Linked DNA regions of Homo sapiens: region 2 is linked to region 1. The links come from fine-mapping of genetic effects on gene expression. A gene starts in region 1. The other region holds a variant in brackets. All regions are shown on one strand. Distances are from middle to middle.

Region 1 (15,037 bases):
TCAGCATCGAACACCCGGGGCTGGCTCAATTCCTTTCTACACCTGCCAAGAAAATCTAAGTGGATAATGATGCTGACCAATCAATGGGCCGTGGGCAACACAGGAAATCAGTGGGCCCGCAAAAAGCTGGGCACCACGTGTTACGGGTAATATTCTCAGGGCCCAAAATGGGTGGCACCAGCCTCCCTGACCAGTCAAAGGAGGCAGGAAATGGAAGCTGAGCTCACGGTGGGAGGAAGCTGGGTGTGGGTGGTGGTGGCAGCCCTGGGAAGAGAAGGGTGTGTTTCTGAGGGCGCCTTGTGCCCTACCTGTTTGCTGCAGCTTTCCAAACCACAAAGCCCTGCCTGCAGCTCCCTGCCAAGGCTGATCATAATCTGCCATGCTATCGGCATTGTCATCTCTTATACAGATGCACATTGAGTGCCTCTAATTCTGAGGATGATCCCCTGAGGAATCTTGCCTTTTCCCAGCGCCATGCTGCTTGTCCATCCAGGCACGTGGCAGCAACACCACCATAGGGATGCCCAGGATGCCAAGCTGCATGCCCGCTACCTCCCCTCCCTCCTGCTTCCTCAGCCCACCTCTTCTACCCCAACCCTGAGCCTCAGAAGGAGGCCGAACCATCTGCCCGTTTTCATTCTTGTCTTTTGCAGTTGGGAAATGAATCTTCAGTGACAGAGCCCACAGAGGAAAACACCCAAACCTGACCCTCCCTTTAACCTTGCGAGCGCTATCACTCAGCCAGATACCACCACTGTTTCCCGAGGACTAAGAGAGATGGCTCTTTGCCTGGTGGAGCTGTGAGGAAGATGATGGGAAACGGGCATGCTGGCATCGGAGTTTTTCTGGATTGGAAAAAGAGGATTTTACTTTTCAGCACCTGCCAGCATGATAGGTTTGCCAAGAATTCTACACTAAACAAACACACACGCCTACATCACCCCTCCTCCCAAGCAGGCATAACCCACTGGGGAAGGAAACAGCTCAGGAAGGCGGATGGCAGGGGTTCGTGAACCTTGCTAGTTTCCAGGGCACGATCCATTTTAATCTCCGCCAGAGGACTTAAAAATCTATTCTGTCAATATCTCCCTTATTAGTAAAGTTTGGGTCCCAAAGCAAGAAAACTAAGGCTTAATTTTGACTTAGAAGATTGTTGTTGTTGTTTTATTATAAGTTTTGATTATGTAGTATGTGTGTGTATATATGTTATTCACTACATACATATTTATGTATTTTTAATATATTTTATATTTTAATATAACATATAATACATATTATATATTATATAATATGTAATTATATATTAAAATATATAATTATACATATATTTTAATACATAAAGTATATTTTAATGTATATATAAATTATACACATGTATATTCAAATGTGTATATCAATATTTATGTATATATTTAGATTTGAAAGCCTTGGGGGACATGTAGGTCCATATCCTCTTGTAGATATCGTAGTGGGATCCTGGCTTTTGGTTATCGTCTCCCCCAAGTCTCCTATTCCCTTTCCGTCCCATTTTTTTCTTGCAAAGAACAAGCAATGACTGAGGCTTTCATAGCCATTGTCACAGAATAGGTCCTGTGGGGAGTTGATTTGTAAAAAGTTCCTGGACCAAAATAAAGGTGGTGACCAAAATGAAGTCATCTCTGCCACCTCCCAGTGGGTATCGATGTGGAAACGGTAACTTGAATCTGAAGCTTCTTTGTGCCCAGCCCCACTGTGCTGATGAGAGCAGACAGGGTGGGAGAGAAAGGGGCACACAGAGTGGACATGTGGATGCCGTTCCTCAAGCCCTTGAAGAAACCAAGAGTTGGCCGCAGCCCTGACCCAGAGTTCTGGGAGATGGGTCCGTGGTAACCCCGCAAGGGAGAAGAGGGCAAGAAGGCCAGGATTCCCAGGGCTCATCCAGAACAGCCCATCCGTCCAGATGGGTATCCTTGATTCCAGTACCTTCCCTGCTCACACATCTCTTTCATCCATTCATTGTACCACTCTGAAGTGTAGAATATGCAAAAGAGAGAATAAAATCATATCATCGCCACATGTAGTTTGCTGTGTCATGCTTATCCTGGTGGATGAAAAAGAGGCCCACGAACCTATGGAAGCCATTCTTGCCACCTGGGTTTATGAGCCAATAGACCATGGCAGAGGTGATGGGATGTCATGGCCATGCTTATGCTATATTACATAAGACCCTCACTTACTAGCTGACTCAGTCGAGGGGCTCTCCTTGCTGGTTTGATCAGTAAGCAGCCATGCTGGGAAAAACCCATGTCCCTAGGAGCTGAAGGAAGCCTCTAGCTCACAGCCAGCAAGAAGCAGGGTCCCTAAACCCATACCTGCCAGAACTGAATACTGCCAGCAATGGGAGTGAGTTTGGGAGCAGATTCCTCCCCACTTGAGCCCCTGGAGGAGACTATAGTTAGGCCAACCCCTTGATTGCAGCTTGTGAGACCCTGAACAGACGCCCAGTTAAAACTGTGTCCAGATTTCTAACCGAGAGAAACTGAAATAATCACGTGTTGTTTTAATCTGCTAGATTCGTGGTAGTTTGTCACACACAAATAGAAAATGAATACAACGACCGTCTCCCACCAACTTACCAAATATGATAAATGTTCACATGGAAGAAATGTACAGACTCATACATCATCTATTCAAGTGCAGTCCTTTGTTTTTTAACCGTGTTACAGGCTTGTTAGGAACTGAAAAAAATTACATTTTTTTTTTTTGAGACAGTCTCACTGTGTTGCCCAGGCTGGGGTACTCTGGTGTAATCTTGGCTCACTGCAACCTCTGCCTCCCAGGTTCAAGTGATTCTCCTGCCTCTCACTCTAGCCTCCCAAGTAGCTGGGACTACAGGTGCGCAACACCACACCCGGCTGATTTTTTGTGTTTTTAGTAGAGATGGGGTTTCACCATGTTGGCCAGGCTGATCAGGAGCTTCTGACCTCATGAGATCCACCCACCTTGGCCTTCCAAAGTGCTGTGATTATAGGCGTGAGCCACCACTCCTGGCCAAAAATTTACATTTCTATACTTTCACATAATAAGTTCAGTAAGCATTTTCATTGAAACAGCAGAAAGGGAGCTGGTTCTAATTGAAGACAAACTTTGAAAAGATTTAAATTTTACTAATCTTAAATCAGTTCATTGTTGTTTTCCATGGGACACACTCCAGGGCATGGTGGTGACCAATGCAGTCTGCAAACCCAAGTGCACATTGAACCCGACCCTAAAAGGCAAAGGTCAGAGAAAGGGTACACCTCTGACCTCCTTCCTGCACAACTACAAAGTGGAACCCAAGCTTTGGCTAAGGGCCTCCCCTCTTTGCGTGCTCCCCAGGCTTGCCCCACGTTTCCACTTTTCCCTGATGCATCCTGGGCTTCTTGGAGGTCATGGTGAGAGACAGGACTAGCTGGACTTCCTAGGCCGACTAAGAATTCCTAAACCTAGCTGGGGAAGGTGACCGCACCCACCTTTAAACATGGGGCTTGTAACTCAGCTCACACCCGACCAATCAGGTAGTAAAGAGGGCTCACTAAAATACAAATTAGGCTAAAAGCAGGAGGTAAAGAAATACTCAAATCATATATTGCCTGAGAGCACCGGGGGAGGGACGATGATAGGGATATAAACCCAGGCATTCGAGCAGGGAGAGGCAACCCCCTTTGGGTCCCCTCCCTTGTATGGGAGCTCTGTTTTCATGCTATTAAATCTTGCAACTGCACACTCTTCTGGTCTGTGTTTGTTACGGCTCGAGTTGAGCTTTCACTCGCCGTCCACCACTGCTGTTTGCCACTGTCGTAGACCCACTGCTGACTTCCACCCCTCCAGATCCAGCAGGGTGTCCGCTGTGCTCCTGATCCAGTGAGGCGCCCATTGCCACTCCCGTTCGGGCTAGAGGCTTACCACTGTTCCTGCGTGGCTAAGTGTCCGGGTTCGTCCTAATCGAGCTGAACACTAGTCACTGGGTTCCATGGTTCTCTTCCATGACCCACGGCTTCTAATAGAGCTATAACACTCACCGCATGGCCCAACGTTCCATTCCTTGGAATCGGTGACGCCAAGAACCTCAGGTCGGAGAACAAAAGGCTTGCCGCCATCTCGGGAGCTGCCTGCCCCATCATGGGAGCGGCTCGCCACCATCTTGGGAGCTTTAAGGACAAAGACTCACCTGTAACAATGGCTCTTGTAATCAGTGAAGGGAGAGGCTAACTTGGCCTTAAACCCCACGGCTGGGTCCTCACCACGTCCAAACAGGCTGGATCTGCTCGCTCCCTGCCAGGAGGAGGGAGGCCAATGAGAAATGTATCATTGTGGCTCATAGTGCACCAGAGAATGGAGACTATATCAGAAAAGACCCCGCATGATTTCCAAGCTGATCTTTTAATCTGGGGGAGGATCACGGGCTGTGGGGATGCTGGGATACAGGTCCATAGGTTCACCCTCTACAAAGAATCACACATCTTTCCTTGGGCCACACAAAGCAGTTGCTCTTCTGTTACAGGAAAAGGGTCCTGATCCAGTCCCCAAGAGAGGGTTCTTGGATCTCCCGCAAGAATTCAAGGTGAGTCCAAAGTGCAAAGTGAAAGCAAGGTTATTAAGAAAGTAAAGGAATAAAAGAATGGCTACTCTGTAGACAGAGCAGCCCCAAGGGCTGCTGGTTGCCTATTTTTATGGTTATTTCTTGAAGATATGCTAAACAAGGGGTGGATTATTCATGCCTCTCCTTTCTAGACCATATAGGGTAACTTCCTGACATTGCAGTGGCATTTGTAAACTGTCATGGTGCTGGTGGGAGTGTAGCAGTGAGGATGACCAGAGGTCACTCTCGTGACCATTTTAGTTTTGGTGGGTTTTGGCCAGCTCCTTTACTGCAACCTGTTTTATCAGCAAGGTCTTTATGACCCATATTTTTGTGCTGACCTCCTATCTCATCCTGTGACTTAGAATGCCTTAACTGCCTGGATAGGCAGTCCAGTAAGTTTCAGCCTCATTTTACCCAGCTCCTATTTAAGATGGAGTTGTTCTGGTTCACATGCCTCTGACACTTCCAGCTCTTCCACCCACACACATCTTCCCTGTCTTGGGGCAGAGGGCAGTAGCCTCGTACCCTGAGGATTCTTGAAGGTCTGGGGTCCGAGCAGCTCCATCAGAAGCCCCATCGGGGACCTCTGAGGGGTCAGTGACAGTCCCTGGGGACAGACGGTGGCTCCCCAGGACGCTTTCCCTATTAAGCCACTGGCAGAGTCCAGACACTTTCACTGGGTTGAGAGCTAGAAGGTCAGAGAGCGGGAGAGAATCCAGAGGTAGGTTCAGGGTTACTGTTTTGCTCAGCCCTGGATGGCCAGGCCCAGCCTCCCGCATTCTACTGGAAGGAGGAGGAAGATGGGTTTAGTTCTTCCCAGGGCAGGAGAGAGAAGCACAATTGTGGGCTGGGTTCCTCCTGCCTCTGAACACAGCGCCATCCCTTCTCCCAGGTGCTGGGCTGGGGTGTGTGGAAGATGAAGGAAAAGTGAATTAACTAAATAGGGTTCCTGCAGTGTCTGGAAAGCCTCTAAACCCCCGAGCACCTCAGGCTTCCCTGCCCTGATTCAGAGGTGAGGTTACCTAAAAGCCAAGGAAGCCTGGGCTTCGGGGACCCTCACTCACAGGCCCCCTTCCAAAAAAGCCCTGCACCTAAGCTTGTACTGGGACTTCTGTATTATTTTTCCCAAAGGGCGCTCCCCACGTTGTATACACTTCCGGCCCCCAAATCTGGATCCACCCTGGGAAGGGACAAACTGGGGGCAGCCTACCCACATTCGGCCAGCGGGGGGTCCGACCGGCCTTGGTATCTCCAAGCGAGGTAACAGTAGTCGCCCCTTGCGTCCCTCCCCCTCCGGGGCGCATCGCCCCTTGCGTGCAAAGCCCCGGCACCGCCACGAGTCTCGCCTCGCCCTGCACAGGTAAACAGCCGCTGGCCGCCGGCCGGCCGCCCTGCAGGGCAGCCCGGGGACCTGCCCCCGGCGCCACGCCCGGCGCCCCGGGGAGGCCCAGCCCGCAGGCCCCGCCGACTGGGCGCCGCGCCCTGGGAACGTGCACCGGGGCAGGCAGCCCGGCCTCACCTGGCCCCAGCGCGGAGCCGGATCACACCTGCCTGCTGGGTGAGCCGAGGGCATTCGCGGAAGGGAAGAGACAAGACCTGGGAAGGGACGCCTGTGGCTTAGAAAGACCCTCAGGCAGGGCCGGGCGTGGGGCGCGCTGATAAAAATTCCTGGAGCTGTATTATTCACATCGCAGATTTGTCCCTTTGCCTCAATCTAAAAGGAATGGGAAAGAACAGCCGCTGGGCTCTCATTTGCTTCCAGCTTACACAGATTCAACTATCAATTATCCCAGAGGAGAGGCGTGCAGTGCAGGGCGTTGGGCCACGAAACTGAAAGCTGCTGGCGAGGCGCGTGGGGGAGGTCGATTTCTGCGTCCTGCTGCCTCCACGCACAGTGAGAACCCACCCCGCCACTGCGTTCCTGTCCTCACAGGTAAAGTCAGGATAATAATATCTACCTCACGGGGGATTCGAGGAAGTGGTGGGAGCGTAAAGCCCCGTCTGGTAGAGTGAATACCTGAGCAATGGCCTTCCGGTCCCGTCTTCAGCACAGCAGGACGAAAATGTCTTCTGTTGGGATCCCAGAGAAGATCCAGACGCTGACACCTGCCCCTACCTCTCTACTTCTCATCATACCGGTCACCTGGAAGAAGGGTCCATTCAAAGCAAAGCCTGTAGCCAATGAGTTGTTTCTGCCATCAAACAGTCAAGCATATGAGGCCCAATAGGCAGTCCTGTTTTTTTTGTGACAGAGTCTCACTCTGTCGCCAGGCTGGAGTACAGTGGCGTGATCTCGGCTCACTGCAACCTCCACCTCCCGGGTTAAAGTGATTCTCCTGCCTCAGCCTCCCGAGTAGCTGGGATTACAGATGCACGCCACCACGCCGGCTAATTTTTGTATTTTTAGTAGAGACGGGGTTTCACCATGTTGGCCAGGATGGTCTCGATCCACTGACATCGTGATCCGCCCGCCTCGGCCTCCCAACGTGCTGGGATTACAGATGCGCCGGCCAGGCAGTCCTGTTAAGCCATGCCACACAGCTTAAAAAAAGACACTGGCAAGCTCAAGTCCCGAAGTTACCAGCTGAAGGAAGAGACTTAAACCAAACCAAGGGCTTCCTATGACAGTTCTGAAATACCCTCTTCCCTCTTGAGTCCATACAACTGAGAAAATAGAACGGCCAGTCACCGTGGCTCGTGCCTGTAATTCTGGCACTTTGGTAGGCAGAGGCAGGCAGATCACCTGAGGTCAGGAGTTTGAGACCAGCCTGGCCAACATGGTGAAAGCCCGTCTCTACAAAAATACAAAAATTAGCCGGGCATGGTGGCGCATGCCTGTAGTCCCAGCTACTCGGGAGGCTGAGGCATGAGAATTGCTTGACCCGGGAGGCGGAGGTTGCAGTGAGCTGAGATCGTGCCACTGCACTCCAGCCTGGGTGACAGAGCGAGCCTCTGTCTCAAAAAGAAAAAACAACAACAAAAAGGGAAAACCAAAGGTAAAATTTGATCCACAGGACTGGCCACATTTCTACACTGGTAAAATCATGGCCTTGCTGAAGCATTGATCAGGAAGGGATAAGACCCAGAGAATCCAAATGGAGACAAATGAGAGGATTTGGAAAACCTGAAGTTCTCTGAATCACCCAGTCCTCAAAGAGCCTCCTTCGTCAGCGGAAACCCTCTTCTCCAGTCTTCTGACACACTTCGTAACGACACTGCCATTTCTTTGCATCCTTTGCAGTCTCACTGCAAGAGCAAGCCAGTTCTCATGCATTACCCTCGACTGTCTCCAGAATGGACAGTTAGATCCCAGCACTTCAGAAAGAAGGACAATGGCAAGCTCAAACCAGCGAGGATCAAGATTAGAAACCAACATGATTTTGGGATTTTCCTAACTAAGGGTGCTTAATAAATGGGTGGAAAGGTATCATTTTACACTGGTCTGATGTTGTTGATATACATTGCAGAGATTCTGGATTGACTGTGCTAGCAGGAGAAGCTGGGAGTGACTTCTGAGCTGGACTGACCACTGGACGCCAAGTGATTATCCCTAATGTATTACATGTCATTTGCAACCCAAGCTGTCCGTCATGTACTGGGCCATCTGACACACTCATAAAATCCCATTACCAACTGGAAATGGTTTATGTGGGACTAGCTCCTAACCAGGTACTGAAGGCACAAGTGCATTATATGCATAGGTAGATCATTCCCTGTGTGCCTACCCCTGACCCTTTCATCAATCTAACACCGGCCTCAAAGGGGTTTCCCAAGAGCTAGTGACTAAGAGAGGAAAAACCACTGATCCTCATTTACAGATAGCTTCACACCATATGCTTGCCTACCTTTTTTTTTTTTTTTTTGAGACGAAGTCTCGTTCTGTCGCCCAGGCTGGAGTTCAGTGGTGCGATCTCAGCTCCCTGCAACCCCTGCCTCCCGGGTTCCAGCAGTTCTCCTGCCTCAGCCTCCCGAGTAGTTGGGAATGCAGGTGGGTGCCACCACGCCCAGCTAATTTTTGGTATTTTTAGTTGAGACGGGGTTTCACTGTGTTAGCCAGGATGGTCTTTATCTTCTGGCCTCATGATCCGCCCACTTCGGCCTCCCTAAGTGCTGGGATCATAGGCGTGAGCCACTGCACCCGGCCCTACCTTCTAAATAGGTGACTGTGATGTTATAGTTCAGTGAGGATAGCAGGTGAGAGGGAGAACCTCCTGGGGAGGAGAATTTGAAGCACATAACTCTGTGTCCACTTTGCTTGGAAGCAAAGAAAATTTGATGCAAGAAGCTACACCAACTTCTGAGCAGTGTAGATGGGGGGTTCTGTTCAACAGGTCACAAACTTGAAAGAAGAATGACTGGAGGTTTAATGACAGAGGAGAGGTGTGGGAAGACATACATGGCTTCACTTCTCAGAATGGGCCAAATTTGAAAATGTTTGTTTCTTGAGTAAAACATCATCCAAAATACCCACTATAGCAAAAGCTAATAATAATTAATTGAACCAGGCCATCTGCTTATGTGTAATGATTTCTTTCTCCAGGCACATCATTGCTTCAACTGATTCATGAGCAGAAGAGTCTTTGCTGGCAACACATGAACTGTGATGGATTCAATCACTTAGGCTTTCCATTATCAATGCAGACCTGGCCCCTGGGTGCACAGGGTTATCAGTGACCACCCCTGAATGCCGCAACTGACCAGACTCCAGGGACACCATGGACTACTTAGTTGCAGACTGATGACTTTGGACCTCTTCCATTATGGAAAGGGCAGTGATTTCTTTTCACTGAAACAGGCTCATGTCTGACTTTGGAACTGACCTCTCTGCCTGTAGATCATCATGGCATGCTCTACAAAATTGCTTCTGACAACGGAATTCACTTTACAGTGAAAGAGGGAAAGCAGTGGGTGATACCCTTGTCAATGGATCCTGTCACCCAGAAGCAGTCATCTGTATTCAGCTGTGACATGATTTATTGAAGATTTCATTTCAGGACTGAGAGACGATCATACCTAAGGAGATTGAAATATCGTCCTTTAAGATGCTTGTTTGTTCTGAACTAGGGAACATCACGTGGTGCCGTTTCTCCCACAGCCAGACTAAACAGGTCTGGAGGAAGGGGAAGTAGGCACGGTGCAACTTCCATCTTACTTAATGACTCTCACTCTCTTCAACTTTTTTTCCACCAATTAGCGATTTTATTCCCAGGAAAGGAAGGTTGCACCATTGAGGCAGCTGACCGTTGGGGTGGCTCCCTTTGGAAAGGGGATATAAAGTGTTTGTATGAGTGATGGTTCCATTAAAGCAGACATTTTTTAAAAAGGTGAAATTTGGGGAATTAGAGTGAATATAGATGTTGAACAGAAAAAGAGTGATATAGCAATAGTCTGGACATGTGGGCTGGCCACCTGGAATTTCACATGCCATTAGGTCAAAAAAGTGGGTTGACAAGGCTGGCTGCAGTGACTAGTCCTGGGAAAATGCTGCTATACCACGGGAGACAGGCCAGGGTGGAGGCTATGAATGAAACTCAAGTGGTTCTCTCAGGAGCCGCCTCCTCCTCCTCCTCCAGCGGTGGGAGTTAAGGGAAGACTGTTACCATCATGCATATGGGCAGGGCCTCCTTGGTCTCTGTGCCCTTAGGAAAGAGGAATAGGGTCACGGCTAGTAGGTCACACCCCAGTCATCTAAGGTACTGGCTGAAGACAGCATGGACTTGGAATGGAAACTGGAAGCGGGAAACCTAAACATCATCCAGGGTCTCTTCTCTAGGGCAGGAAATGGGTGCTGTAGCTTCTACTTGTACTTCCTGTGTTGTGTGTATCCTATTTTAACTCATTGCCTCTCTTTCCTCTCCCGTTATTCGTTTTATTGTATATGGGATGAACGGTTATGGTTAACTTTACACTTCAGCTCAAAGATACAGAATAATGAGATGGGCTTGTTATCCCACGGAGGTGGGGTATCCATTACTCACAGACCTTGAGTACAGGAGTTGAAAGACATTGGGGTAACCCCGTTGGAAAGGGAATGAAAGAAGTTTTGATTGTATGAGGAATAGCTACATATTTTAAGCAAGAGTTTTTTCTTTAAGTAAAACTAGAGGAATTAGAGTATATGTTGATATTGAACAGCAAAAGAGTAAGGCTGTAATGAACTTAATAGACCCTTTTTTTTTTTTCTATTTTGGCTCTGCACCATATGAACTCATTCCCAAATTTGGAAAATCCACTATTTTGCGAGTCTTGGGAAGGGGCAAGATCAGCTAGTTCATGGGCACAGGATCTAAGCTCTGGCAGCTGGATGTTCTGATCTAGAACTTCGAATGTGGAGCCAGGACACAAAGAATCCAGCTCAGTGTAGAGTTTGTTCTTGTGGCGGCAGTGGTGGTGGCATCAAGGTACAGCAGTTTCATTAGTGGTGTCCAGGATCTAGGGACCAGCTCTGGGGACCATGGCATCTAAACCAAGCTGTTCTCCAGGTGTGATTGGGTCATGGCCCCAGACCTCTGGCTTTCTTGGATCCAACCCATTTTCAAGCCCGATTCTCCGAAAGAGCCTGTGAATTCCCTAACAGGCTTCCACTCATTTCCTTTTCTGTTTAAGTAAGCTGCTGTTGGATGCTGTTGTTGCAACCAAGAATCTGACTAGCCCTTCCCATCTGAGCTCTTTCCTTTGCCTCTCCTAGTGTTGGATCAGGGAGGTGTTAGTTCCAACTTTAGTTAGCTCTTTTATGATCATCCTTGCAAAGAAGCAGCTTTGAGAAGTACTGAACGTAACACAGGTCATCCACAACATCCCCTTTTTATTGATATTAATCACAGTTATGAGGTCTTGTCCATCAGAAAGCACAATTTGCATTATGTAGAACTACATACAAAGACATAAAAATAAAACATACATACACCAACCACCACACCAGTTAATCTCAACCAATCAAACCTCTGAATGTGTCTTCAATTTTGATCATCAGTGCTTCGGAAGAACGTACATAGACCCAGCCCAAGGTTGGCCTTTGGGGTCTGATAGCATTCACAGAGCAGGAGATTCACCCTTGGAAGCAATTGAATGTGTAAACTCTGAGAGCAGACACTGACAATGCAATGCCTGCATACCTGACTCCTGGGCTGCCTTCCTTCTCAGCAGAGCCCACTGAAAGTCTCACGTGTGCCTTTAACCAATGAGGATGGCAGGCCTTATCTGTGTTTGAAGTGGACAGGTCATTGCTACCCCTGTTGGAGAAGCTATGTAAGAAGGAGTAGGCTGGCTTCTGGTCTAGTTCGACTCATTCTTTATAGGGACATTTCAGAATGATGAGTTGGCTAAAATTTACTTTAAAGGGGAAATGTAAAATTACCTCTTCTTTTCCTATCCCCTTCTTCCTTTCCCATCCTGAGCCCTCTGGCAAGGCCTGTTGCAGCTCAAGAGTTTTTGTCAGATTATAAGTTACCAAATGGTCAACAGGGAAGGACCCACAGCAGATTCCAAAACTCTTTCATTCACTTGAGTTAACTGAAATGGCTCCTTCTTTGAGTAATTGAAGAGTTTGAGTTCTAGCAGTTTGCTGGTGTCTCCAAGTCTCTTAGAAACATGATGGCTATAAACTTATCAAAATAAATGCCTAAGAAATTTGGAAAGCGCGACAAATGGCCTTGCTCCTGGAATCCATTGACAGCAGAGGCCTCCGAACAAACCCACACTCTGTCTGTCTCTTCTTTCCACAGGGCTCACTGTGAGTTCACAGTTGTCCTCATCCCCTTTCCTTCAATAATGTCAATCTTTGCCTTTAAAAAAAAAAAAAAAAAAAGCCAGACTAGCCAATTTCCTTCCCTTTTTCTGTGTCCCCCTCCCATGTAGTATCTCCTTAGGGGGAGGTAAAGGAAGACATGCTCCTCTCTGGGCTGGCTCGGCCTTGGAAGGTAGCTTGCTATCTTTATGATGCTCCAGTTCCAACATTCTAGATGGGGAGAGGCTCAGCAGTGATGGAGCAGGAGGGGCGGATGAGAGGTGTGCTGGCCACTCTGCCCTGAGTCACTAGGCCACCAAAATGCTTAGGAGACGTCTTTTGGTAGCTCGCTTCTATAGGTGACCTTGAGGAGTTGGGAGGCAGATAGAAGGTCCCGAAGTGGAGATTTCCCTGATCTGAAGTTCCTTGATAATCCCACTGAAGAGAGAGTCCATTCAGTGGCCAAAACAAAGAATCTGTATTTCCATGACACCTTAAAATTCCCCATTAAATCAAAAATCTCCCTCAAAGCAAAGTAAAAATGGTTCTATTATAATCAGAGTCAATCAGGATAATGAGATGAAGAAGAGAGGAAGGAAAAAAGTTTTAATGTGAAGAAAGAAGCTTGTTGTCCCATAGAAGCCAACCACTGCTGTTTCTTCGTATGGCCTTTCCCGGGGTCCGAAGCGTCTCAGCCCTAGCCCAGGCCAACGTCCAGTGACATCATCACTACAAATCCCAGGATGGAGGCCCAGGATGCCAGTTTCCCATTACCACTGGAAGAGAAGGACAGGAAGAAAAGTAAGACCTTAATGATCCCTGAGGCCACGGCTAGGCTGAAGGCATCCTCTGCAATGTCCAATTCCAAGAGAAAGCACACTACCATTAATAATGGTAACATTTACTGGGGCTTACTATGTGCCAGGCAAACTAATGAACCATGGAACCCCAAACAACAACCTCATGAGGTCAGTATCATAATTATCCTCATTTTACTGGTGGGGAAACTGAGGCAAAGAGAAGTTACTTGCCCAAGGTCACCTATGATCGTTCTGTGGTCCATGTGTGAGTAATGAAGAGGGGTGATTATTTCTTAAAGATATTACTTAATCTGGCCTTTTAAACTAGCCTCAGAGTTATTCTTCTATAAAAACCAAAATAGGCTGGGAGCAGTGGCTCAAGCCTGTAATCCCAGCACTTTGAGAGGCCGAGGCAGGCAGATCACCTGAGGTCAGGAGTTTGAGACCAGCCTGGCTAACATGGCGAAACCCCGTCTCTACTATAAATACAAAAATTAGCTGGGCGTAGTGGTGGTTGCCTGTAGTCCCAGCTACTTGGGAGGCTGAGGCATGAGAATCACTTGAACCTGGGGGGCGGAGGTTGCAGTGAGCCGAGATCACACCACTGCACTCCAGCCTGGGTGACAGAGCGAGACTCTGCCATTAAAAAAAAAAAAAAAAAGAAAAACAAAACAAAACAAAACAACAACAAAATGGAACAAAGCAAACCCTTACTCCCACCTTCTGACACCTGGCCTATAGCTAGCCAGTGAAGACATGCATGTATCACCTTCACTGACATTTTAGAGCTCACCTCTCCCTTCATTCCAGCCCGAGAATCGAGAGACAGGATGAGAGAGAATATACAAAAACGATAGTCTACTGCATCAAGGGACGGGGGGCAGGTGTGTATGCCACTGCCTGGTGTCACCTCATTTCTTGACCCACATGCCCTTAGCTTCTTTTCTTTTAGTTTCAGAGAGCACAGTTGAGGAGGCAGTGGGGATGATCTTGGGAAGGGGCAGAGAGGGGGAGGGAATAAGGAAAGGAAAGGCAAATGAAGAAAGAGCATATCCCAAGGCTGGGGTCCCAGCTGGGACTGGGACAGGGACAGACAGGGAGGGAAGGTTCTCCAACCTGATCTGGGCTTCGGGGATGATGTCGTCCATGACCACGTAGACCATGGCACCGGCAGCAAAGGCCAGAGCGTAGGGCAGGATGGGCTCAGCCAGCACCACGGCAAAGGCACCAAAGACCCCGGCCAGGGGCTCCACCATGCCGCTCAGCTGCCCATACCTAAGGAGAGAACAGAGACATTTACCACCGCAGGGGGAGGCAAGCAGACACTCCACGTGCCCAGACTGTTGGCTCAACCCTAGCACATGGATGCATGCCATTCTACGTCATATCTGAGCATGGCAGTGCAAAAGCACATCACTGTTTTGTTGAAAGAAGCCCACATGGAGGATGCTGTGACATGGCCTTGCCCTTGGGCAGCACTCACCAGAAAGCTCTCCAGGTGGAGAAGCCTGCCCCTCGCAAGGGAAGGCTGACAGCCAGGCCCTCGGGGAAATTCTGGATCCCGATTCCAATGGCCAAATTCCTGAAAAACCAAGAAAGCACATGAAGGCTGCTGTCTGGAATAGGTGCTCACACAATGGGAGTCCCTGGCCGAGGCCAAGACCTCCGTGGGTGCTAGGAAGCCAGGAGGAGACCTGTGACCTGCAGTAGGAGAGGAAGGAGAAAGGTCAGGACGTGTGTCTAGGTAAAGAGCAGGGGCTGCAGGAGGGAGTGACGTGAGCCCTCTACCCATCATGCTGTCCTGGGTCCTGGGCAGGCTCTGTCCTTACAATGCTTTGCTACAGCACAGAACACACTGGCTGGCTCTCAGGGTGCCCTGAGTTCTGCCACGTGGCTGTATAACTGCAC
Region 2 (15,037 bases), 24 kb before region 1:
CTCAACTCTGCTTTCCTTTTCTTTTTCAGTAGCACTTATCAACTTCCAGTAGATAATATAATTTACTAATTTAACACACCTATTATTTATCACCTTTAGAAGCAGATTTCTCTGATGTATACTATGCACCCAGCACTGTACAGAAGAGAATTCTGAGCAGGAGAATTGGACCTTTTCCAGTATACTGAGACTTCTTCCAAAACTTAAGAAAATGTTTAGCTGGAAGATAGTCTGTGTCAGTCTGTTTTAAAATACAGGCATGCACACTGTGCCATGATGGCTTTCCCATCTCAGTAGTAGACTCTGCTTATCATGTCCATCAACAATCAGAAAATAATGATTTGTTCCTACATCAACACTGCAGTTACTCAGTTCATATATTTGTTTATTGAACTGAGAGCTTCTATTAAATTGTGAATATATCAAATAGTGTTTGTTGAGCTGAGAGTCTCTTTATGTGATAAGTTTGTTTCTAAAACTAATTGCTGCTTTAGAATACCTATAATGCAAATTATTCCGCCTGGTACCCGCTCCTCCTTTGAGAACAACGCTTCCCACCTCGTCCCACGGTTCTGGCAGGAGCAGCTCTGTTGGTGCATGGCCTTCTTCCTCCCCTTGGCTACAGTTGACGGGTCCAAGGATGGGCATCTGACTTTAGCTAATCCAATCAGAGTCCTGCCTTGAGATTTGGCTGACTAGAACCGAATAAGGGAAGCTCGCCCTCAGTGAAAGCTGCAAGATGTAAAAGTCAAGGGCAAGAGGGTGCTCATGTTTCCTCCCAAATGAAGAAAGCAGATCTGTAAAGAGAGAGAAGAAAGCTCCGTGCAGAGAAAACTCATTCCACACATGCCCAGAAGATGGACTATATTCTTTCTGTCCTTCCGGTTGATATTTCATTCTTTCTTGATTGTTGTTGTTGCTTTGTTTTGACATAATCCTTCCAATAAATACCTTGGGATCCATGCTAGTCCCACTTGGGGATCTACTCCTTGCAGCTCCCAATCCATGCATTAAGAGGTCATGATAAAGACAGTCACAGCTGGCCGGGCACAGTGGCCCACGCCTGTAATCCCAGCACTTTGGGAGGCCGAGGCAGGTGGATCACCTGAGGTCAGACTGGCCAACATAGTGAAACCCTGTCTCTACTAAAAATACAAAAATAACTGGGCATGGTGGCAGGTGACTGTAATCCCAGCTACTTGGGAGGCTGAGGCAGGAGAATTGCTTGAACCCAGGAGGCAGAGGTTGCAGCGAGCTGAGATCACCCCATTGCACTCCAGCCTGGCCGACAAGTGTGAAACTCAGTCTCAAAAAACAAAACATGACCGGGCGCGGTGGCTCACGCCTGTAATCCCAGCACTTTGGGAGGCTGAGGCGGGTGGATCATGAGGTCGGGAGATCGAGACCATCCTGGCTAACATGGTGAAACCCCATCTCTACTAAAAATAAAAAAAAAAAAATTAGCTGGGCATGGTAGCGGGTCCCTGTAGTCCCAGCTACTCAGGAGGCTGAGGCAGGAGAATGGCGTGAACCTGGGAGGCGGAGCTTGCAGTGAGCCGAGATCACGCCACTGCACTCCAGCCTGGGCAACTGAGCAAGACTCTGTCTCAAAACAAAACAAAACAAAACAAAACAAAACACAAAGACAGTCACAGCAACTACTGAGACGGGAAAGCTATCATGGCATGGTGTGCATGCCTGTATTTTAAAACAGACAGATACTTACAGACTATCTTCCGGCTAAACATTTTCCTAAGTTTTGGAAGAAGTCTCAATAAATTGGAACAAGTCTCAATTTTCCTGCTCAGAATTCTCTGATGCTCAGATGATGATGGTTCAATTGGAGGTAGCTCACCAGGGCAAACGGCCTGCTTCTGCACTGCCAGAGGAACGAAGGTGGAAGCCGCTCAAAAAGAGGAGCTTCAGTTGGAGCAACTCACCTCAGCACTAAAAGAAAGATGTGAAGTCCCCTGGGGAAGTCAGAAGCCGACAAAGGATGACAGAGAAAACTCCAGAAATGTTAAAGAGAAAGAGATCAACAACTGGTACATTAATAATCTGAATGATAGAAGAAACCTAGAAAATTTGCAAACTGCTTCAGTTGATGAAACTTTTCTCAATTGTAATAATTATTTGTCCATTCCATTATTATAAGGCCTCTGTTTGAGCAGAAATACCATGCATAAAAGAAGAGAAAAAGGATTTGTTCTGTGTGTCTTTTTTTTTGGAGACAGAGTCTTACTCTGTTGCCCAGGCTGGAGTGCAGTGGCGTGATTGGGCTAACTGCAACCTCCACCTCCCAGGATGAAGCAACTCTCCTGCCTCAGCCTCCTGAGTAGCTGGGACTACAGGCATGCACCACCACGTCCAGCTAATTTGTGTATTTTTAGTAGAGCTGAGGTTTCAACATGTTGGCCAGGCTGGTCTCGAACTCCTGACCTCAAGTGATCTGCCTACCTTGGCCTCCCAAAGGGCTGGGATTACAGGCGTGAGCCACCGTGCCCGGCCCTGTGTGACTTTTGACTCCAGTTTTTGGATGAATCAGGGTCCTAACAGGATACAAACAGCACAACCACTTTGGGGGACTGAAAAGAGCTTAAGACAGAGATGATGTATTATGGGATGGGCAGAGTTCAAGGAACCAACAAGGGAGAGTGCAGGTTCATGGGGCCAGCAGTGGTGGGAAGGCATGACCCCCACCCTCTGAAGTCAGACGGGGCAAGGAGAGCAGAATGTTTCCAGAACCCAGAGACAGCAGCTGCGGAGAAAGGACAGCCTGCCAGAAACTGAGGCTACTTTCCTTCCACCCTCTAATCTTCTGCTATTCGCTCCACTTGCTGAACTCAGCTGGAATCCAGTGGCCAAGGGAGCCTGCTGATGCAATCCCTACAAGGGCAGCTCTTGGGGCACAGATCAGGGGTGAAATGGAGACAAGATCTGGATGGGCAAAGGAAGGAGATCCAGCTCACGTTTCAAGGGTGAGTTTCCACTCTCGTGCCAGCGTTAGAGGGGGATGCTAGGGAGAGACAGCGCCCCTGACATCCCCCCCAGCTCTAGACCTCTGTTGCCACTTGGCTTTCAGACATCTGTCCCTCGGTGCCTCTCAGATCTAGCACATCCAAACCAGACCACTGATCCTGCTACTCAGTTCTGAACCATTCTTGGACCTCCTGATGATGTGTCATGCTATTTTTCCAGATTTCTCTTCCTGGCCACCCAGGCTTAAAGCCTCAGGGCTACCTCCACTGTGCCCTCTTCGACATGTGGTCAGTTGCTACCCCCTCCCTCCACAATCCTACACTCCACCATCTTACCCATCCTGTCTTTTCTCATTTTCTTCCAACTAGACCGGTGGCATCTACTTCTAACTGTCATCTCTAATCTCTTCCCCTTTAAATGTACCCTACACACCACAGCCTGATTAATCTGTCTAAAACACAGCATGGATGGTGATTCATCTGCCCATGTCTCAACCAACCCAGCCCTTCCTTGTTCCCCAAATATGCCCCATGCTTGCCTGCCTTCATTTCTTGGCTAAAACCTTTCCTTTGCCTGGAGGAGGGGCTGCCCTTCATCTTTTTCTCCTGAAGCCAAGCTTTCTTTCATGCTCCCAAAATATTTTCATCTTCCCTCCTCCCCTCTCTCTAGATATTCTGCTTGTACCTTTCTTATGGCACATATTCCAGCTTAACTTATATTACCGTAATTCGGGGACATGGGTTCTTTCTTATTTTCCTTACCCCATTGCAAATTTGAGAGCCAGAGTCATGCCCTGTTCATTTCCGTAGTTGCCCCTGAGACCTAGCCAAACAGCTGGCACATAGTGGATGCTAAATCCCCATGCAGTGAATGAATGAATGTGGCTATCACTTAGGATATTTTCCAAAAGCCGTATGTACAATATATTTCTTGGCCTGTCTCTCTTGTCTACATAATGATACAAATCAAGGAAGGCCCTAACGAGTCCCATGTTGATTGTGGGGCATATGACTAATCCCGTAATACACTTGGACTGCTTTATGAAAGCACTTTTCAAACAGCTTTATAGCATATCTAGGCCACAAGGTTGGGAATAGATACCTAGAGATTTATTGGATCATTAAATGAACTAGGGAACAATAGGCATTGTGTTAATTTACACACACAGTGGGAGAGATCCAGGACACCTAAACCATCCCCATGTTAAAAATCAGCCCTCAGGCCCCATATAGTCTGCAACTCACCCAAAAGTACCCCCACGAGGTACACAGGAGCCTCTCCCCAGGCTCATGGAAACAGCAACAAAAGTCTTAAAGTCTTAAGTCCACCACAAAGATCTGATCGGTGTAGGTGGGGGAGGATGGGTGGTGGGAGAGAAGAGAGGAATTGTCAAAAGTGCAGTGATTTAGTGTCTGTCTCTTTCTTCCCTTCTCCCTCCCTCCCTCCCATCACCCTGCCTCCTGCACAAGGAACTATTGAGAAGGCACAGAACAAACGCTCCCTTATGCGGCTCCCACGGCGTCTCTCGGTTTGTCGGAGACAGCTGCCCAAAGCACGCTATGGTTACTCATTACCCGGGTTCCCAGGCAGGAAAAGGAGCAAACTTAATAGACTCGAACTAACCCTGAGCTCAAATACTCCAGCCATAAATAAATAAATAAGTCAGGTGTACCAGGGGAAGGGGAGGGAAGTGAACGGGGAATGGCTGGGGAGGGGTCGGCAGTGTAAGCGGACTGAGTGGGGCCGGGTTGCGGGGGCGGGGGTGGCGGTGAACACAACCCAAGAGTTTCTGAAAGGGGAGGGGAAGGATGGAGGGAGGGAGGAAAACTCTTTTCTCCCTTTGGAGGAAGGACAGAGGGTGTTTGTGTTGCTTGCTTGTCCCCGCCTGCAGAGTGGACGAGAGGCTCTCAGCTGGCCATCTGGGGACCTTGCGGAAAACTAGAACTTTGAGGGGAAAGGAAAGAAAGTCCTGTTTCTCCAGCGTGAGATGTGGCTGGGGTTTTGCTTTCCTCCTGACTCACAGAGTAAATGGTTTAGTTCATGGCCATCGAAGTGCCCATTGAACAGATGGGAAGGGCAAGGATGGAGAGAGAAGCAAAGGGACTGAGGGGCAGAGTGACTGTTGGCAGGAAGTCAGTCGTGCTCCAAAACTTTGAAGTCGTCTCTATGAGTGCTCCTCAACCCACACACTTTTGCCCCTCCCCCTACTCTGGAGACACTGGGCAACGTCTGGAGAGGTTTTTCATGGTCACAACTGGGAAGCCAGGGTGGTACTGGCATTTAGTTGGTAGAGGCCAGGATGCTACTCACCACGCTACAAGGCACAGGACAAAACCCTGTAATAAAGAATGATCCAGGCCGGGTGTGGTGGCTCATGCCTGTAATCCCAGCACTTTGGGAGGCCGAGATGGGTGGATCACCTGGATCACCTGAAGTCAGGAGTTCAAGACCCGCCTGATCAACATGGTGAAACCCCATCTCTACTAAAATTACAAAATTAGCCGGGTGTGGTGCCAGGCGCCTGTAATCCCGGGTACTCGGGAGGTGGAGACAGGAGAATCGCTTGAACCCAGGAGGTGGAGGTCGCAGTGAGCCATGATCCAGCCATTGCACTCCAGCCTGGGAAACAGAGCAAGACTCTGTCTCAAAATAATAATAATAATAAAGAATGATCCAGCCTCAAATGTCACAGTGCTGAGACTGAGAAATCCTGCTCAAGATGTAAGTCTCAGAACCCAACCTCCATCCCAGGCTGCCTCTAATTCTGCAGAGGGCATCTGTCAGTCCATAACAGGTCCATAAATTCACTCCTTCTTCCAGGGTGAAGAATGGAGAAAAATCAAAGAACAGCACATGCAACGATGCATTGGTGATCTCCTTCCTGCTAACCCTGTGGCCAAGAACACAAAGCAAACACGACCCCCAACAGAGAAGGCAGGGGAGGAGCCCACCAGTCAAACCAGCATTCCCTAGTCCCCGCCTGATCATTGAACAGACTTGAGGGGGCGCAGCATCTTTTACCTGGTCTCAGAATTTCTGCCAGTCTTGGCATGTTGGGGGCTTGGGAGGTTGCATTTTGGGTTTTGTTTTATGGCTTAATCTGGACCTCAATTCAGTCAAGTCAATGAGAGCAGGGACAGTCCCCAGTCACCATCTCAGGACCATGGCAAAATGTAATGAGCTTTTTCAGGAATTTAAAGTACTCACAGAAGGGCCTTCTGCAAAAATGAAGCATGACCCAATGAGTGTAGCCCAGCGCAGTGAGGGTGGACAACTTCAAGGCCATTGTTTTTCAGGGGGCTGTGGCAGCCAAGAGTTGCTGGGCCCTGTACAACCGTCAAAGTACTCCCAGGAATGCCACTGGTCTTTCCACAGTTGTCCAGGGGTGGAGAATCCACTGAGGGTCAATGACTCTGTTACAGTCATGTCAGTACCTTAAAGGTTTGTGGTGGGGGGCTGTGGAGGAGTTGGGGAGGGATTATATCTGTAGTGTGTGCGTGTATGTGATGTGCATGTGCATGTATGTAATGTGTGTGTAGATGTGTGTGATGTGCAATGTTTGTGCATATGCGTGTGCTTGTACCTGTATGTGATGTGTATGCATGGCATGTATGCATATATATAATGTGTGTGTGTACGTGTGTGCCTGTGTGTGTGTGTATGACACACCAGCTGATCAATGCCAGAACAAGAAGACCAAGGAAGATTCCAGAGATAAGACTGTCCTACATCTCTGATTGATGGGCATCTTTGAAGACGTAGGCTAGCATCTAGAGGCTTCGAGAGGAAGCTCTGCAATTTCAATTCCTGTCTCTGCTACTTCGGAGCTACGTTACCTTGGGCAAGATGTTTAATTTCAGCAAGACCCAGTTTTTCTCGTCTCTGTAGAGGGGCAATAAAAGGACCTACCTGTGGGTTTCAGGAATTAGTGAATTCATGGAAAGCACCTAGCACTGGGCACAGAGCAAGCACACAGATGTTGCCTGTTCCAATTATCACTGCTTCAGGAGACAGTTCTTCCTGGAGTCTAACCTAAGGCTGCCTGCCTCCTTCCCTGCCTCCGAGGGACTCCATTCCCCTGATCACCATCTCTGTGTGACACAGTCCTCTTGACTTTAGCTGCTTGTCTTTGGGAATGTCAAAACTCAACACTCCAGCTGTCCCCGGTTCATGTAGCCCAGCCAGGAAGGAACCGGGGGAGCTGATCACCAACTCTCAGCCTCACACGTACCTCGGGGACCCCAAAACATTTTCTGGTGGCCCAGCAGACTGAAAAAGTCTGGCTGGGGTTTTCCCCCTTTGTGCCTGCAGCCAATGCCAGCTGAGGCTTTCCCTCCTAATTCCCCAGATGCCTGACGGCGTTATTGCCACAATAAAGCAATGACAGTCCCCTATCAGCTCTCAATCAGCCTAGCCTGCCCTTCACAACCGGTTTGTCAGACCGCCCCGCCCTTCCTCGTTGTTAGCTCTCTGCTTGCTTATCTGCTGCTGGAGACAGAAGTCTCTGGTTTAATTGTGGCAAATTAATGATTGAACTCCACAGCCAACTCCTCCCCAAGTGCACGACAATCCCTCCCATTGAAGGCGCCAAGAAGGAACTCACTGTCATCGCCGAGACCAGAGTCAGCGGGTGAAGGCAGCGACCAGTTCTGGAACCACATTCAGTCCCACACCCAAGCAGCTGAGCGAAACTCTTCCTCCTCCACGAGGCCTCTCCCAGCCCTTCAGTTCATGA[C/T]GCCTTGGTGAGAGAGGTCTGTATAGCAACACGGCTGCACTGAAGCTTCCTTTGTAGGTCGATCGATGGTGCTGTGCCACATAAATCACCAGCTTATTTCTCCTGGCATGTGAGCACCTATGCCCGATGAGAGCAGATACATAATCAGTGTTGAGTTAATGAAGGAGCACAGATGAGTCTCCTCTCCCGACTCAATCAATTTTATTGTATAATGGTGGCTATATATTTAATAACATGTAACTCACAGGCTCGGTTTCAAGCACTTCCTCCTAATAACTCTACGAGGTAGGTACTGTTGCCATCAACACCTGTTTTACAGATGAGGAAACTGAGGCACTGAGAGGTTAAGTTGCATGTGTAAGACTCTAATGAGTGGCAAACTAGGATTCAGACTCAGCGTCCACACACCTAAGCATCACAGTATACCCCACCCATGAGGATGCTACCCTTATATAAAATGGTAAAATGAAAACCTGGACTCTACCACCCAACTGAAGATCTAGAAGATGATCCATGCCTCACTCTGACTTTCTTTTTCTTTTTTTTTTTGAGACGGAGTCTTGCTCAGTAACCCAGGCTGGAGTGCAGTGGCGCGATCTCAGCTGACTGCAAGTTCCACCTCCCGGGTTCACGCCATTCTCCTGCCTCAGCTTCCCGAGTACCTGGGACTACAGGCGCCTGCCACCACGCCCGGCCAATTTTTTTGTATTTTTAGTAGAGATGGGGTTTCACCATGTTAGCCAGGATGGTCTCAATCTCCTGACCTCATGATCCTCTCGCCTCGGCCTCCCAAAGTACTGTGATTATAGGCACAAGCCACTGCACCTGGCCACTCTGACTTTCTTTATGCAGTCCTTCAGGTTGCCCTTCTTCTTCTTCTTCTTTTTTTTTTTTGAGATGGAGTCTCGCTTTGTTGCCCAGGCTGGAGTGCAGTGGCACGATCTTGGTGCACTGCAACCTCCGCCTCCCAGGTTCAAGCAATTCTCCTGCCTTAGCCTCCCGAGTAGCTGAGACTACAGGTGCGTGCCACCATGCCTGGCTAATCTTTTTATTTTTTAGTACAGATGGGCCAGGCTGGTCTCAAACTCCTGACCTCAGTGCTGGGATTACAGCTGTGAGCCACCACACCCGGCCTCAGTTGCCCTTCTCTCTTCTCCCCAGAACAACAAACACGCTGAATTTTATTACTCCCTTTATTTTCACTGTGGTTTTAATACATATGTACATGTCCCCAAATAACATGCTTAGCTTTATTTCTGAACTTCATAAAAATATATTTATGTTATATGGAGTCTGCAACTTCCCTACCCTGAAGTCACGAACATGTTTTTCTATATTTTCCTCCCTGCTCCTCCAGTGTTCTCTCTCTGCCTCGGCACTCCTAGGTATGACCTAAGCTATTTTAATTTGTATTTAAGGATATATTCTTTGCCAAATGTTATAGAGTTTACAAAATAGCTCCTTGTCCATCTCTTTCAGCACATAATCCCCACTCCTTTCTTTTTCTAACAATCTGGAAGGCTCTACAATGATGGCACCCATGTTTGACAAAGGGTTTCTGGGCACTTCTGAACAGCCTGGGAATGTATTAATAGTTGGGAACTGAGATCAATATGTCTTAGATGTTTCATGGCCTAAGGGACAACAGCACGGTATTGTGATGAGGCTAAGAACAGGCTTTGGAGTCAGGCGTTCCTAGGGTTGAATCCCTCGTGTCAATCAGCTGTTGACACAAGACTGTTGCAAACAAATGACTGGAACACTCAGTGGCTTAAAACAAGGGATATTTCATCCTGCATTTGCAGTCCTGCAAGGCTGACTGTGGTTCTGTGATCTACAATGGACTCAATGTGCAGCTTAGCTTGAGTATGCCTATTGACGGAGCTTGGATCCCAAGCCATGGGTTGGTATCCATTATCTACTGCTGTATAACTACCCCAAAACTTAGTACCTTAAACAACAATTACGATTTCTTTCTCATGATTCTTTGGGTTGCCTGGGCTGATCTGCTGATCTTGCCTGGGTTCGCTCATGTGGGTAGGGTCCAAGACAACCTCACCTGTGCAGCAGTTTGGTGCTGGTTACCCACTGGGGCTCTTCCATTCTCTTCCACGTGGCTTCTTCTCAAGCAAGCTAAACAGACTTCCTCACAATATGGTGGACCCAGGGTTCCAAAAGGGTGGGAGTCCAACATGCAAGATCTCTCAAGGGTTAGGCTCCAGAACCCACACCCTTTGCTTCTGCCACATTCTATTGGCCAAAGCAAGCCACAAGGCAGCCCCCAGGTGTGGGATGGTAGAGAAATAGACTCCCGCTCTTGATGACACAAGTGGCAACGTCACACTGCAAAGGGCCATGAATTGAGGTCCGTGTGATTCCTTGGTTGGTGGGGGGCAGCGCAGGGAGGTGATTAACACAGTCTAGCACATTCGGGCCCTAGTCGACTCATGTTTTTTCTCAAGCCAAGACTGAAGGGCCTGTTGTAACCTGGGACACACACTTCTTCAGGTGACCACAGGAGCCCAAACCAAGCCAAAGTGCACAAGTACCTGGCAGCTAGTACTCCTGGTGTGGTTGCTAACATTCCATCAGCCAAAGCACATCACACGGCCAAGGCCAACACCACGGTGCAAGGATAGCAGGAAAGGGTGTGTGTGTGTGTGTGTGTGTGTGTGTGTGTGTGTGTGTGTGTGTGTGTATAAAACCAAAAAATAAACCAAGCTATCATAGCCCCACTGTAAATTCTCATTCATAGTTGACCCATCAAAAACATGGGTTGTTTTAAGGCAAAGTGACCAATTCATCCCTATTTGCTTGGGACTTTGTTGGATTTAGTACTGAAAGTCTCATATCCCAAGAAACCTCTCAAACCTGGGCAAATAGGGATGGTTTATCTTCCCTATTTTGAGTACTAAAGGAGATCCTCCCAATGGCTGCCAGCCAGATATCATCATTATGACTAGCCCCACTCTGCAGAAGAGAAAAGCAACTTTTCAGTGGCTGTAGAGACAGTAGGTGGAGTAGCCAATATTCAAACCTGACCCTATTGAAGCAGCTCTCTCCTATCATATGTTTCTCATGCCTGTTGCCTCCAAAGTCCTTCTCATTTGAGGTCTCCCTGGTCTTTATTTTTTTTGTATTAAAACAATTTATCTTGTTTTGAGACTGGGTCTTGCTCTGTTACCCAGGCTGGAGGGCAGTGGCATGATCTTGGCTCACTTGCAACCTCTACCTCTTGGCCTCCAGTGATCCTCCCACTTCAGCCTCCTGAGTAGCTGGGACTCCAGGTGTGTGCTACCATGCCTGGCTAATCTTTTGTATTTTTAGTAGAGATGGAGTTTTGCTATGTTGCCCAGGCTGGTCTCAAATTCCTGGACTCAAGTGATCTACCCACCTTGACCTCCCAAAGTGCTGGGATTATAGGCATGAGCCACCATGCCCAGCCTAAAACAAAATGTTTTAATTGGCAAATAATAATTGTACATATTCCTGGGGTCCATGGTGATGTTTCCACACATATAATGTATAGTGATCAGATCAGGGTAATTAGTGTATCCATCATCTCAAACAGTGATCATTTCTTTCTGTCAGGAACATTCACTATCCTTCCAGCTATTTGAAACTATATATTACTGTTAACTATAGACATTCTACAGTGCTATAGAAGACTAGAATATATTCCTCCTATCTAGCTGTCATTTTTTATGGATTTCAACAAACCTCTATAAAGGGGAATGAGTTTCTCTCTGTAAAGGGAGAAACCAAGTCCCAGAGAAGTTAAGGGGGACATCTGCCAATGAGGTATATGGAATACTGGGGCCAGCCTGAAACAAAGGGTAGACACAGGAAACAGAGGGGCTAACCCGTAACCAGGAGGAGGCCCTGAGAGCCAGGGAGGAGGATGCTGCCTGGGCTTGGGCTGGGCTTGGCTGAGAATGGCTGAACCTCAGCACTAAGCCTCTCCCATCTCCCATGACTTAAGCTTTGGGAAATGGCCCATGAGATCTGACCCTCTAGAGTTGGATTCCAATCCTGAACTGGGCTCTAACTCACTCACTGTGTGGCCCAGGGCAAGCTGTTCAACCTCCCTGGGCCTCCATTTCTCTGTTTATGGATGACCTGCCTGACTTTCCAAGAATCACTGGGAAACGGAGCCTTGGAGTTCCCTAGAGAAAGGAGGTGTCATAGTAGGCTATCTGGCCATCTTGCAGGTGAACCCCAAAAGAGTGGCTTGGTAGTTTTTTCTCAAAGAAATTCCACAAAGAGGAGGTATGTTGTAATGGAAGAGTATTGGATTTGGCATCAGAACACCAGGTTCCAGTCCTGATTTGCTATTTAAAAGTCACCCATCATCTCAAAGCTACGGTCTTGCTTGAGTGTGAATCACAATTCTTGCCTTGTACAGGAGGATCAAATCAGGCAGGAATGCAACCACATCAGTCACCTGGAAGGAACGCAGGCATCCGCAGAGGAGGGGGTGAGGTGTGGAGTCTCTGCCCGAACATCGGTTAAGTGGTGAGTGAATTGACTGGGATGAAACTGATGAGGATGGTAGTAACGATGCTCTAAAGCACCCGAGTTTTCCCCCAGTTCCCTCAGGGAAGCCCCACTCTGAGACCTGGGACCGCCACTCCCAAATCCCTGTCCCAGATTCTTTCCTTTTCCGAGGGCATCTAGAGGACAAGCACCTTCTGATCGGAATGTTTTCCAAATACTCAACATCTGGAAGGAGCTGTTACAAAGGCCCCCTTTGTGTAGCCGGGAAATGGGCTGGCAATAAAACAGGGCCAGACCCTGCCGAGCTGGGAATGGCAGTGGGGAGAGGGTGGGTGAGAGGAGCAGCGCGGAACAGGCTGGGAGGAGGACCTGTGAGAGCAAGGTCTCCGAGAGGGGTGTCCGGGCAGCATGGGACAATGGAGAGTGACCATTGCATATCCAGCGCTTTCTATGTGCTTTCTCTGTAGTGTCTTATTTATGTAAAAGAAAGTTTCAGCAGTGGTCACAGTGAGGGGGGAAGATGTATCTGAAGCGTGGTGGGAAAGATGGAAGAATTCACTCAACAGTATAACATTTTTCAGGTCTTGACAGAGAAGGCAGAAAAACCTTCCCTGCTGGAGTGTTAAAAGGTGACAACGCCCCAACCCTGTTTCTAACCTGCATCATTCCCCCACTTCCTTAGAGCCATGTGCTCAGAAAGCAGGTCCAGGTGCCCTTGCAGGAGCCTCCTGTCCCTTTGTTCCAGCAGGTGTCTGTGAGTCTGTGTGCACGCCCTTGGGGGCTTATGGGACCTATAAGAACAGATGATTCTTCCCGTCTGTTCTGCCACAACCAAGCAACGCTCTGCCCTTCCTTGTATGCCCCCTGGCCCCAAGGCAGTCTGAAAACACAAGGGAGTTCTCTTGATGGAAACTTCTTGGGAGACTGCAGGCCTGCTATGCAAAAGTCGCTTCCCAAAAGCCAGAAAGCCATATGCTGTTTATTTCCAAAAGTATCTGGAAATCAATTCAGGCAGCTCTTGCAGAATTTCAGAATCTCGGGGCTGGAACGAATCTCAGGAGCCCGATTGCAAATGGGCAGTGGATGGACCACCTGCTTTAGACTCCACGAGGGGGCTTGTTAAACATGCAGAGTCCTAGGCTGAGCCCTGGAACCACCTGGTGAGCGGGGATGGGGAGTTGGAATCCAGAAATCTGCATTTGGTAAGCTCTATGAGTGATTTTTCATTCAAGTGTGAGAAGTATTGATCCAAATCCTGACCCAGCCTCCAGGACAGCAGCACTTGCTAAGGTGAGACACACGGCTGTTTTTTTCCATTCTTAAACATATCTAAGGCTGCATGCATTTCCCTCAGCATTCAGAAAGGCTTTCTCAACTTTCTTTTTTTATATCTAATCTTAGCTTTCTGAGCATCCTCCTTGCATAATTTATTGAGCACAGACTATCTACTGGGTGAGTTCATTGCATATTGCCTTTTTACTATTCATGGCATCCTTTGAGTCACATACAGTTGGAGGCAGCTGGAGAGGGAGGGGAAAATAAGAAGAAAGGAAGTCGTCGGAAAAGAAGGGAAAGGCAGAGATGAGGAAGACCTTCCCTTATCTCCTGCCTTTGGGAACAATAAGCTGACTTCTTGGTGTGTCCTGGTCCTTTTTACAACTGGAGCAGATAGAGTGTTATTGAAACTCAGAACTGCCACATTTGGAAAAACTAAATTCTACTTTTGTTTTTCCAGACTTCCCAGGCCATATTACATCTTTCTGACCAGTTGGATGCTATAGGAAGTCAGCTCAGATGCTTCTAGGAAACCTTAGGCTTTTGTGAGAAAAAGAAGGCATGCAGCTGGTACTAGCCTCCCCTCTTCTTCCAGCATTGGACAGTGCATTCATTTTCTAGGGCTGTCCTAACAAATTACCACCCTCTGGTGGCTTAAAGCAAGAGGATCTTATTATCTCAGAGTTCTGGAGGCTAGAAGTTTAAAACCAAGGTGTCAGTGGGGCCATACTCCCTCCAAAGCCTCTAGGAGAGAAATTTCCTTGCCTCTTCCAGCTCCTGGTGCTTCCTGGCTGATATGGTTTGGCTTTGTCCCCACTCAAATCTCATCTTGAATTATAGCTCCCATAATTCCCACGTGCTGTGGGAGGGACCAAGTGGGAGGTAACTGAATCACATGAACAGGTTTTTTCTGTGCTGGTCTTGTGATAGTGAACATGTCTCATGAGATCTGATGGTTTTATAAAGGGGAGTTCCCCTGCACTTGCTCTCCTGCTGCTGCCATGTAAGACGTGACTTTGCTCCTCATTCACCTTCTGCCATAACTGTGAGGACTCCCTAGACATGTGGAACTGTGAGTTGATTCAGTTGATTGAACTTCTTTCCTTTATAAATTACCCAGTCTCTTCTTTCCTTTATAAATTACCCAATTTATTAGCAGCGTAAGAACAGATGAATACACTGGTATTCCCTGGCTTGGGACAACATCATTCCAATCTCTGCTTCTGTCTTCATATGGCCTTTTCCTCCCTGTCGTTGTGTGTCCTTCTCTGTCTCTTATAAGGACACAATCACTGAAGCTCACTCTAATCCCATATGATCTCATCTCAATCCTTAACTACCTCTGAAAAGATTCTATAAGGTCACATTCTGAGGTTCCAGGTGGACATGGATTTTGGTGGAGGACACTATCCAACCCACCACAGATAGGGACATTGTATTAGTCCATTCTCATGCTGCTATAAGGATATACCCAAGACTGGGTAATTTATAAAGGAATAGGTTTAACTGATTCACAGTTCTGCAGGGCTGGGGAGGCCTCAGGAAACTTGC

The links. PIP is the estimated chance that this variant, and not a neighbour inherited with it, causes the effect.
Region 2: its variant is the best candidate, but not a certain one, in a credible set for the expression of LINC00511 in blood mononuclear cells (TOPMed, PIP 0.78).

The regions. Positions count from the first base shown.
Region 1 is chr17:72,634,558-72,649,594 of GRCh38, forward strand. LINC00511 (long intergenic non-protein coding RNA 511) reads right to left here and starts at 5,915. Exons shown (of 5, transcript NR_033876.1): 1 at 5,814-5,915; 2 at 4,190-4,293. LOC105371887 (a long non-coding RNA gene) reads left to right here and starts at 6,118. Exons shown (of 4, transcript XR_934961.3): 1 at 6,118-6,161; 2 at 6,366-6,536; 3 at 8,071-8,272; 4 at 9,144-9,908. SLC39A11 (solute carrier family 39 member 11) reads right to left here. Exons shown (of 10, transcript NM_139177.4): 8 at 14,613-14,711; 9 at 14,246-14,404; 10 at 11,392-13,105. The coding sequence ends at 13,027. LOC107985005 (a long non-coding RNA gene) reads left to right here. Exons shown (of 3, transcript XR_001752991.2): 2 at 5-146; 3 at 654-1,123.
Region 2 is chr17:72,610,734-72,625,770 of GRCh38, forward strand. LINC00511 (long intergenic non-protein coding RNA 511) reads right to left here. Exons shown (of 5, transcript NR_033876.1): 3 at 7,583-7,831. Among named protein-coding and RNA genes, the nearest start is that of LINC00511, 22 kb to the right of the region's middle. The variant C/T (reference allele first, on the strand shown) is at 7,715.